Regions from separate parts of the Homo sapiens genome. Here region 1 is linked to region 2. Evidence: fine-mapped expression QTL. A gene starts in region 2. The other region holds a variant in brackets. All regions are shown on one strand. Distances are between the middles of the regions.

Region 1 (5,389 bases), 93 kb before region 2:
TGGGATGAGCTCTAAGCCTTGATTGAAATCTCTCCAATAAATCAAATGGAGCAAGGTGATCTTTGTAATTGCCCATAAATAACATTCTGCCCTTATATCTTAGACAGAAAACTAGAATTTGAGACCTGCTGGCAATGAGACAAGCCTCAGATGTCAATGCAGCACACACATCGGGGTGCCAGCCTTAATATCAGAGCAAGTCCAGATTTGAAGAAAATTGTCACAATTTTAAAAACAACAAGGACCGTCAAACTGTCAATGCTAGAGAATATTCTCACACAAAGCAAAATAGGATTGGCTATAATGCTTTCACACCTGCATTCTTGAGTCTAGTCCCTGGAAAGGTAATAAGTGCTGAGAAGGATGGGAATAGAAGAGAATCCAGAGAAACACATACCGGAAGGACCATGGCATTCCCCATTGGCCAGATTTCATAATTGGGATAACTATGGTGACTTTTAGTCGCAATGCAAATGCACTGAACATTTTCACTTGTATTCTCTTTTGTCAGCTCCAATGACTCATACGTTTGAAAAGCTAAAGTTTGTGGAAGCCTCATTTCCCACCGATGAGGTGATATGGGCTTAAATGTCATCATTGAGCAAACTGTGTCGCTCTTTAACTTCCTGGTCAGGACCCAGCCACTCTCGATCTTTCCAGGTAATAGCAAAATAGAAACAAAAACAAAAAACAGAATCTTAATTAAAACTATTATTTCCTTTAATATGAGAAACAAAAAGAGTGCTAACCAATTAATGAATTTAGTATTTGCACTCTGCTTAAGTATAAATGCCTAAATTATTTTTGTGAAGTCAAGTTAGAAGCCCTAACCTATTTATGAAATAAGGTTGTTGAAAATTAGGAAGTGAGTTATCTTCCTAGAAGGTCATTATACCAAATGGTATTGGTGCCCCAGTAACGGTGACCTGCTGCAGGCAGCTGCCAACTCCCTGTCTGTGGGCTTTCTCTCTGCTCCCACCAAACAGGGCTGAAATGCTGGTGAGTTCATACCTCAAGAAGCAGGCTTCGGCTAAGGAGGAATGAGAGTTAATAAATAAATACCCCAGCTTCTCACCACTTCCGAGGGACAATTCTGAAGTGTGTTCTACACTGCCCCCTAAAGGTTCCCAATGGAATTGAGCCTTGTCTCCCCCTGGTGTAGCCTGTCATTAACACACTGTTGGTCTCCTTCCCTTTCTGGTCTCAGCACCTTACTTCCCTGTAGGTACTTCTTGCAATCACAATTGCACATAATTGATTTGCATCTCAATCCTAGACTCAGGGTCTGTTTCTAGGGAAACCCAAGCTTTGATGCCACAAGAGGATTTTATTAGACCAAAAAGAGCTGCACAGATCTTGATAAAAGCTCCCTGTGATTCAGGAAATATAAAAATAAGACTTCCCCACCAGCTTCTAGGAAGTATACACTGCTCCTTCGATAGGCCAAAAAGGGAGAAGTCTGGACTGACATTCTAGTTACGGAGCGTTGGTGGATTGTCAAGTTGTCTGACATTAAGTTTGGAAAGATAAGGGAAATTATTTTTCTCTCAACTATGCAAGCAAAAAACTTAAAATAACTCCCTATAGTGTTAACCCTACTTAGAAACAGATGAATGGCATGCCAGCCTAAAGCCAGTTGTTTGCCCCATGCCTCTTAGAGAAAATTTTAATAGCAAACCTCTGTCAGGGTTTTTCTTTTCCCATTCCTGCCTCTGTTAGTCAGCCTATCAGATATACATGACCATTTAATCCATCAGCATAGTTAATGGATTCCTGAGATCCTTCACTCGTATTTGGAAGTGTCAAGGACACTTTGTGATGCCTGTGGAATTCAGGCTGGAAAGATTCACAGCGGCATGTTGGAGGTGGACAATGAAGTTCTGGCACTTTCTATCCCTTCGAAGAAGAAAACTAGCCTTTCAAGTCTGCAAGACATAGGGACAATAGACCCTTTGGGGCAGTCTGGAGGAGACCCTTTTTTCAGGATTTATACTGGGCAGTGTATCTGTGTGGGAAGGAAGGTGGACTGAAAGGTGAAAGATGCTGGTGCTGGCAAGCAGTGTGACATTGGTAGGTCAACTTGATCTTTCCTCCGCCTTGGTTTCTTTCCCTCTGAAATGAAGGGAAGGAAAGAAAGAATTTTTCAGCTCTTTAATTCTAGTCTCTAAGAGTAATGCTAATTTATTATTCAGGTCAGTGATGGTAATTGTTAAAAAAAAAACAAAAACAAACAAAAAAAAAAAACGGCTGTAATAATCTCCTAGGGCTTGAATGTGTCCTAACTGATGGATACTGGTTTGGGAAATTGTGCTTTTTGTAATTCAAAGTCCCCTTAGCTAAACTCTTTAAGGAATTCCTGTAATAGCCTTGCTGGTAAAATTCAGAAAGTATCTCTCTCTTTCAGCAAAATAAATTCAGAACCTGGGAACATAAAATGAAAAGGAAAAAATGTTCAAGACTTTCAAGACTTTACCAGGAAATGAAAGTTAAGACAATAAAGTTGCAAGTAGTCATTTTGAAAGAAAGTGTGTTCTCATCACCATGCCAGTTGGAAACATACATACTTTTGAGCCCCAACCACTAGTGGTGGGAGCAAACAGTGTTTGGGGTAGAGATGGGGCTTTAGTTCTAACCGTAATTCCCAGTCTCCCCATTATTTCTTAATGTCAATATACACGTTCTCAGGTTTCTTACTGATTATGTAAATTACTTTTCAAATCAACTAAAAGATACTCATCTTCTGCCGGGCGCGGTGGCTCACGCCTGTAATCCCAGCACTTTGGGAGGCCGAGGCGGGCGGATCACGAGGTCAGGA[A/G]ATCGAGACCATCCTGGCTAACATGGTGAAACCCCGTCTCTACTAAAAATACAAAAATTAGCCGGGCATGGTGGCGGGCGCCTGTAGTCCCAGCTACTCGGGAGGCTGAGGCAGGAGAATGGCGTGAACCCGGGAGGCGGAGGTTGCAGTGAGCCGAGATTGCGCCACTGCACTCCAGCCTGGGGAGAACGAGACTCCGTTTCCAAAAAAAAAAAGAAAGATATTCATTCTCTCCTTACCTCACTCCTTGTTTCTCTACAGTTTGCTATACTTACAATTCCTCACTGTAACACTTCTAAACATGGAATACCTCAACCTGTCCTCCTTTCACAGATGGAGAAAGTAAGTTTCAGAAGTACTAAGTAAGGAATGTAGCCAAGATGCAAACCTATGTGGGCCCAAATCATATATAATATTTTTCTCCTTTAAATGTTATTCATTTTAATTATTGCATATATAGTAATGTTCATTGTAACACAAAAAATAGAAGATGTATGAAGAAAAATATGAAAATTATTGTCTAACTTTAGAATCTTGATCTTTGGAAAGATGTTTATGACATGTTAGTCTTTTATTTTTATATTTTTATACAGATGCACCTTGGCTTACTGTGGGGTTATGTCCTGATAAAGCCATCATAAATTGAAAATATTAAAAGTTCATTTTTAGCTTATAATATTTTCAATTTATAACAGCTTTATCCAGACATAGCCCCATTGTAGGTGGAGTAGCATGCTGACTGCATATTGCTTTTGGACCATTGTAAAGTTGAAAAATCGTAACTCAAACCATTCTAAGTTGGGGACTGTCAGTACAGTCATATATGTCTGTCCCTTACTGGCCAAACTTCTGCAGATATTATCCTAGAATTTCTGCTAATTTTTCTTCTTCTGCATTTGCACATTTGATGAACCAGGGGTTTATTTTTTATATGGTAATAAGATAGGTATCTAGTTTTATTTTCTCTTCTATAGATAAGTTACCAAATAAAGCATCTTTTTTTCCAGTGAACTGAAATCCCACCTTTGCCACATTTCTGGTTCCCATTTGTACTTGGTTCTATGTCTGGACTATTCTATCCATTGACCTCTTTGTCTGCTCTAATAGTGAAATGTTTTGATTGCAGTGGCTGTAGTAGGCTGAGAAATGCCACCTCCCCCACTCCAAAAGATATCCACACCTTAATCACAGGAACCTGTAAATGTTACCTTATTTAAATTTATAAAAAGCTTCTGTAAATGTGATTTTGAGGATTTTGAGATGAGAAGATTATCCCGGATTATTGGCATAGGCCTTAAATGCCATCACAAAATATGTGCTTATAAGAGAAGACAGAGGGAAATTACAAAGACAGAAAATCACAGAGGCAGAGACCAGAGTGATGTAGCCACAAGTAAGGGAGTACTAGAAGCCAACAGAGGCTGGAAGAGGCAGGGAACGAAAGACCTCCTAGAGCCTCCAGCACAAGCATAACCTTGAGGATTCCTTGATTTCAAACTTCTCCAGAACTGTGAGATAATAAATCTCTGTTGTTTTAAGCCAAGTTTGTAGTAATTTACTACAGGAATAATAGAAAACTAATATAAGAGCTTTTTACATTTTTAATAAATGTTAAATCACATGTCTAGTCATTCCTTTTTCAAAATCTTGAATTTTATTTAGTCTTTCAATGGAATTATTAATTATTTTGACCAAGTCCAATTCAGATTAAGATTGCATTATATTTATATATTAAATTGGGATAAATTGGTATTTTTATGATATTAGTCCTCCCATCCAAAAATAAGGTATTTTTCAAAATCCCTTGTTTGATATACTTGAGTAAGATTTTATAATTTTCTTCATTTCTGACATATAACTAAAAAAAATGAGAAGGATATAAGTATTTTATTATTTTGTTACTAGTACAAATAATTTCTTCCCATTTCTAACTTGGTTATTCTGTTATAGAAAGAGGCTGTCGATTTTATGTATTTATCCAGTCCCTCTCACCCCCAATCTCTATGTTCTCCTAATTATTTTAATAGTTGCTTATAGTTGCTTTAGTGGAGTCTGTTTAATTTTGTAAGAATACAATAACTGAATCTCTTCCTTTGCTGTATTTATGCTGATTATTTTATTTACTATTTTCATTGCATCAATTAGCACTTGTCAAACACTGTTCAATTTCCATAGTAATAAAAGTCATCTCTAATTTTTCCATATTGTAACAAAATTGATTTCAGGATTTTACCATCCATTCTCATGTTTTCTGTTAAGTAAATAATCTTTATCATGGCTACTTCCCTTCTATTCAAATTTTACTTAAATTTTTTTTTTTAAGACTAGATGATGAATTTTATAAAGTAACCCTTCACTAGCTAGTGGTATAATTATATGGTTTTCCCTCTAATTTGTTGAAATATGGAGCCACGTAATATATTTCAAAATTTGAAATCTCTTTGAATTCTTCGAATAAGTACCATTCGGGTGTGACAATCTTATTCTCCTACTATTCAGCTGAAATTTCTTTGCTAACGCTTTATTTTTTAAAATCTCCATCTGTATTCACAAGTAACTTGATTCACAGATTTA
Region 2 (5,389 bases):
GGTGAACTACCACACTGTCTAGTACCGTACATGATAAAGAAGCTGATTCTATAACCTGTTTAACACATACTGGTGCCTGCAGAAGACCCACCAGACAGAAAACTATCTTTTTTATAAATATATAACGTATCTTTAAGTTTCATACTTCTGTATTACCAATGAAAGTTCTTCTGTATAAATCCACATGAAACTGTACGAGACTATCCATATCTTTCTAAGATTTCCCCTGTAATGTCAAATGCAAGTACTTTTTACCCTTGAGAGTGTCTGATTTTATATGAGTATGTATATGTATGTGTACACAAAGATCAGATTATTTCAACAGATGGTAAGTTTTTCATTTGCTCTTAGGAGACAATAACTCTTAGAATACTCAGAAATCTCCCAACTGGTGTTACTTAAATAAGGTACTTAACTTCTGAAATTGTGAAGCAAAAACATTTGTTTAAAGACTTTTTCACACACAATGCTTTCAGAGAGAACATCTTCTATTAAATAATGCTAATACCAGAAAGTTATTTGTCTTTAATTTTAAGTTGTTAAAAATCATCACTATACATGCCACTTGCTCCCAAATTCTACGTCAAGGTGCGATTATAAATGCTGCATAATTCCATATGCTTTCCACGGAAAGCTAAAGTGTTCTTTTCCGAAAACATTTACAAGGTAAGCAGCACCCTCTTTCTTCATCAGTCTTCTTTTCTGTTATGCAGAACTTAAATTTAACTGTGAAACCAGCAGGGTACAAATACAGCATAAACAAACTCTTTCCAAACACACGAATGATGCTTACTTCAGCATAGCGAGAAAAGCAGCAGGTTCGACATCTGGTATACGGATTTCATCTTTGTCCTCTGCAAGTTCTCCGTAAAACATCGCATGGAACACAGAGCTCCCAACAGCTAAAACATACTGTGTAGAAAGGGAAATCTTATTTCATACACTAAATTGAAGGCATTTCCAGCAAATCAATGCAGAAAAACAACACTAGGCAATCAGGTTTAGTAAACATAGCGTACCTAAAATCTACTGCTTTGAAAAAGCCAAGGTACACAGGGTAGCTTGCCATGGAAGCATAAGACCATGCTGCTAATTATTTCAAAGCTTTAAGAGATTAATGCACATGTCCCCTCATTACTAAATACATACAATAATAGCTTACATAACTAATTTCTAGGAGAAGGGTAAACATACGACTTTCCTGACCTGTCACAACAACTTCCCATGTCTGGAGAGTTAAGAGGGGATGTGTGAGATATAAAGCAGTATAGAAGGAAACAAAGAAAAAATTAAGCGTGGCCAAAGCCCTCTGGAGAGGGTGCGCTCTCTCCCTAATCGAGTGAAACATGCACTGCCTGACATCGGCAAGCTGCCCACACCAAGTTACAGGCTTATGGAAAGGGTCCCTCTTTGTAAACGTCAGGACTAAACCGGTCATGCAGCTGTTGCTTACTTTGTGTCCTGGCAACCGTTGAGTCCCACCTGGTGGCCCAACCACAAAATGTACATCTGCCATCAAATCATTATTGAACATCATCGCATTTCTATAAACAGAGGCAACTCATTAATTCACAGCAGCCTGCATTTTTAACATCCCCTTCCCCAACATACAAAACCCACAAAAGACTTGCAAGCTAAGCAACAGTCCAGTAACTTCAAGGCAAAACAACAAATAAAGGTTCTAACTAAACTGTTCATAATCATTGCAAACATAAGGGAAGTAACTAAAGTTTAAAATAAAAGTTATACAAACTTTTAATAAAGCTAAGGACAAATAAAAGGTTCCCATTTTCTATGGCCCATAGACAACCCTGTCACTTGAATGTTACAGCTTGCAAAAACATTTTTATCTAAGAGGAAAACAGCTGTACTGTTTTGGAAAAGATACAAGGCAATTTTCCATTACCAATAAAAAGCTTCTGGGAAAAGAGGAAACAGATTTGTGTTCAAATACATTACAGGTTTTGCAAAAGCAGAAACTTCAACACAGGAAAACTTTTAAAGTAAATAGACTAGCGCGGCACTTACCTCTCTCTAATGGTGGGATAAAGACCCTGCCAGTTTGGGGCCGGGATAAGGTTGTTGTTACTGAGATTCTGCTGGTGGTACTGCTGGACGCTGGTGCTGCTGGAGTTGGCTGGCTTTTTACGGGGGAATATATCAGCAGCCATCTTCTTCTTTTTAGTCTTCAAGGTAATTATTTCATAACAAACTGGTGGCAACTTGCTGCTGTTGCTACTGCTGCTGCTGGTATTTGCTTTCTTTGAGCTTTTCTTGGACCTGTTCTTTACCGTCTCTGGAAGCATCAAGAAGAAGGTGAGACATTTCATGTTCTTTTCCTTGTCATCTACCATGAGTACAGTGTGTCTCTCTTTAGAGTTAGATATCCCAAATTGGTTTGAACATCAAGGAAAAGAGATTAGCCCGGGCTAAGAGGTTAACTGAAACCAACAAAGCTGATATTTTGCTGCTTTTCTCAGCCAGGCAAGGTGACCTTTTCACTATGTTGAATAGAAACTGGCTTTAAGTTTTATCCAGTACTGGGTCTGTTAAATATATCCCCATCATGATTCCTGTTTCTCTTATTTGCTCATAAAAATAACTGTTTCCTAGATCACCTGAAAATGCTACACTGCAAAGATGACAGGCACAGAGCTGTAGCACTTCTTTTCTGAATTAGGTCAGCAAGATGGGCTGGAGCTGCGTGAGTCTGTTCAGCCGGCTGAAGTTGTGTGGTGAATGGATCGGAGGAGAGTAGGTATTACAGCCCTGCAGATGGAGTCAGACAGCCAGTGCTCCGAGCCAATAGCTGAAGTCACCAATCATGATTGGACCAAGCAAAACAGTGACACCTATTGTAACATGCATAGTTCTGATATTAAAGGAACAGCAGTTGCATTTTCTTGTCTACTGTATATTTAAACAAGATAATAACATATGAAATATATTTGACAACAGGAAGGGAGGAGTTTATGCCCACAGATTTCTCTTCAGTAGACATACATTATGTCCCCAGTTAAGCAGGATCAATTAACAAAGGGTAGGGACAGATATCTATATTTCTACTAAAATCTTTTTCCCAGCAGCATTTAGTTTCAAATACTTAAAACAAAATCCTCCAGTCTATAAACTGAAAAGGGCTATTAATAGCAAAACACATTTATTACACTTTAAAGGCAAAGGACGTTATTTTTCTTTTTCTTAGCCTCTTTTGAGTGCAAGTCATAGTCTAGTGCTAAAGAAGAGAACTGAGGCCATGTGTTCAGTTTACCTCCCAATGTTTTCTAGCTTCTATAATGGTCTTTGACAGGTGTCTCAGGTCACAAAATACTGTTAATTAGATTAAGATTATACCCGTACACCTAAGTACACTAAAGCATAAGATAAACTCTAGAAGTAAAAATAAGATTCAAATAAAAACAAATCTGATGATCAATGTTCAAAGGCTGTAATTCACTAAAAATATTTCAGATGGGGCCATGTTCAGGATCTCAAAATTCAACTTAACTGTTAAGGCTACATTTAGTCTTGTCTTAATTTTAAAGAATATAATCCACAACTTCTAAGACAGAACAAATAACAAGGCTATTCAAAATGATAAATGTTCGGATTCCACCTAGTTAAAATGCAAACAGGTTCTCTCTGCTTTGAATTAGAAGAATATAAGCTACCATTTGATTTTTGTAGGTGTGAATCCTCCAACCATTTCTAGCGTTGGTGAGTAAAAAAAACAAAAACACCGGCAATAGGTTCTGCATATGCTTATTTATTGTAAAGAGGGACTAATTAAAATATTTAATCTCACCCCTATCTATTTGGATCACGCTCATTTGTTCAAAGCACAGCAGCCATTTGCTACCCCTCAGGCAAATGCACCCTTCATGACCACAGCCCTCCTTGTTTTAACATTTGTCTGAATAATGACTACCTGACACAGTGAGGGCTCAGCAAATAAGAGTTACGATTGTTATTGTTATAATTAATAATCTGCTAAAGGCGGTTACCAGAAATCAGTCTTTAAATCCCTAGAACACTAAATTGAACCAAGAAATATCCTCTTTATTGTTGTTATTATTATTCTTAAAACCATTTGCAAAGCCTCTGTAAGAGAACCAGGGCCTGTAGCACAGTTACCTGTCTCCATTTTAGATGGATCCTGAAGCACTGCTTATTTATTATGATTATCATGTTCTCAACAGCAGAACACACACATACAGATACCTCCAAATCATCTTCATACACACTTTAACACACAATGTTAGAGAGGGATCTAGAAACCAGTTTAAAAAGCACATAGAGAAAGTCATGAAGAAACAAGTAAGCTCCTATTGACCTAATTATTCAGAATAGGGTTAACACTAAAGGATTTCTCTCTTGCTCAAGTGCCACTGAACTTCCTTGACCACTTCCTTGCAGGAAAGCTCCCATGCCAGGTAGGCCTTTCTGACTGGGATTAATCTCATAAATATTTCTAACAAATCTAGTATCTGGCTTTTCAGGTCAGAAGTAATCAATTAGAATGGAAAGGGAAACCAGCTGCTTTTAGGCAGACATACTATTAATTGGTAGCTGGATGGAGACAAAATAGAAAAAACATAAAACACAGATACAAGAACTTAGAAGGGTTTGTGATCTTTACTCATTTTGCATATGGCTCAATACCCATCACCAAGAAGTCTCCAAAACACATGGCTCTTACACCACTAAGTTAAAGAAAAAAAGTAAAGTGGATGTAACAGTTTGAGAAAGAGAAGTATGCAATATTGTAGAACATGTTTTCTAAAATTACAGATATCAGTTATTTAGAAAAATAAGTTTTGTAGAAAATTCTGACAATACTAGTTAAATGAAGTAGCGCTAAATCTGAATCATCTACAAGAGTGCTACAAAGAAGGGCATTATTACTCCAATGTATGTAAGGACTGATGAGCATGGCTGTTTAAAATCAAGACAGAAAAATTATCTGACGGCTACTTTTTCTTACCACGGTAATAAGGCAAGTAATGCAGGTTCTTGCTACTGAAAATGTAGTTGAAGGATCAGCAGCAGCATCTACAGGGAGCCTATTAGTCACCCAGAATCTCAGCCAGACTCTGGATCAGAATCTGCATTTCATACAGTATTCAAGGTTGAAAAAAACTTCACATAGATAACTACTGACTACTAGATGTCTTCCCAATGATCCAGTACCAACATCTGGTGCCATATGTTGCATTCAACTATTAAGTGAATTGAAAATAACTCAAAATAATTTAATTTAGTTTGGACATTAAAAACTTAACAACCCCTCACATCTTGTTCTGAAATTCTTCTGATTAGGCCCCAAATGTCAAATTCTAGGATTGAGGTGTGCAGACAGCCAACTGAGAGGGACCAAGATATTCTCTGG

What was found. PIP is the estimated chance that this variant, and not a neighbour inherited with it, causes the effect. A credible set is the group of variants that fine-mapping cannot tell apart.
Region 1: its variant is the best candidate, but not a certain one, in a credible set for the expression of BTBD3 in whole blood (TOPMed, PIP 0.72).

The regions. Positions count from the first base shown.
Region 1 is chr20:12,008,185-12,013,573 of GRCh38, reverse strand. No RefSeq gene overlaps it. Among named protein-coding and RNA genes, the nearest start is that of BTBD3-AS1, 92 kb to the right of the region's middle. The variant A/G (reference allele first, on the strand shown) is at 2,816.
Region 2 is chr20:11,915,241-11,920,629 of GRCh38, reverse strand. BTBD3 (BTB domain containing 3) reads right to left here and starts at 2,737. Exons shown (of 4, transcript NM_014962.4): 1 at 2,029-2,737; 2 at 1,454-1,544; 3 at 794-912. The coding sequence starts at 2,354. BTBD3-AS1 (BTBD3 antisense RNA 1) reads left to right here and starts at 2,029. Exons shown (of 3, transcript NR_186407.1): 1 at 2,029-2,316.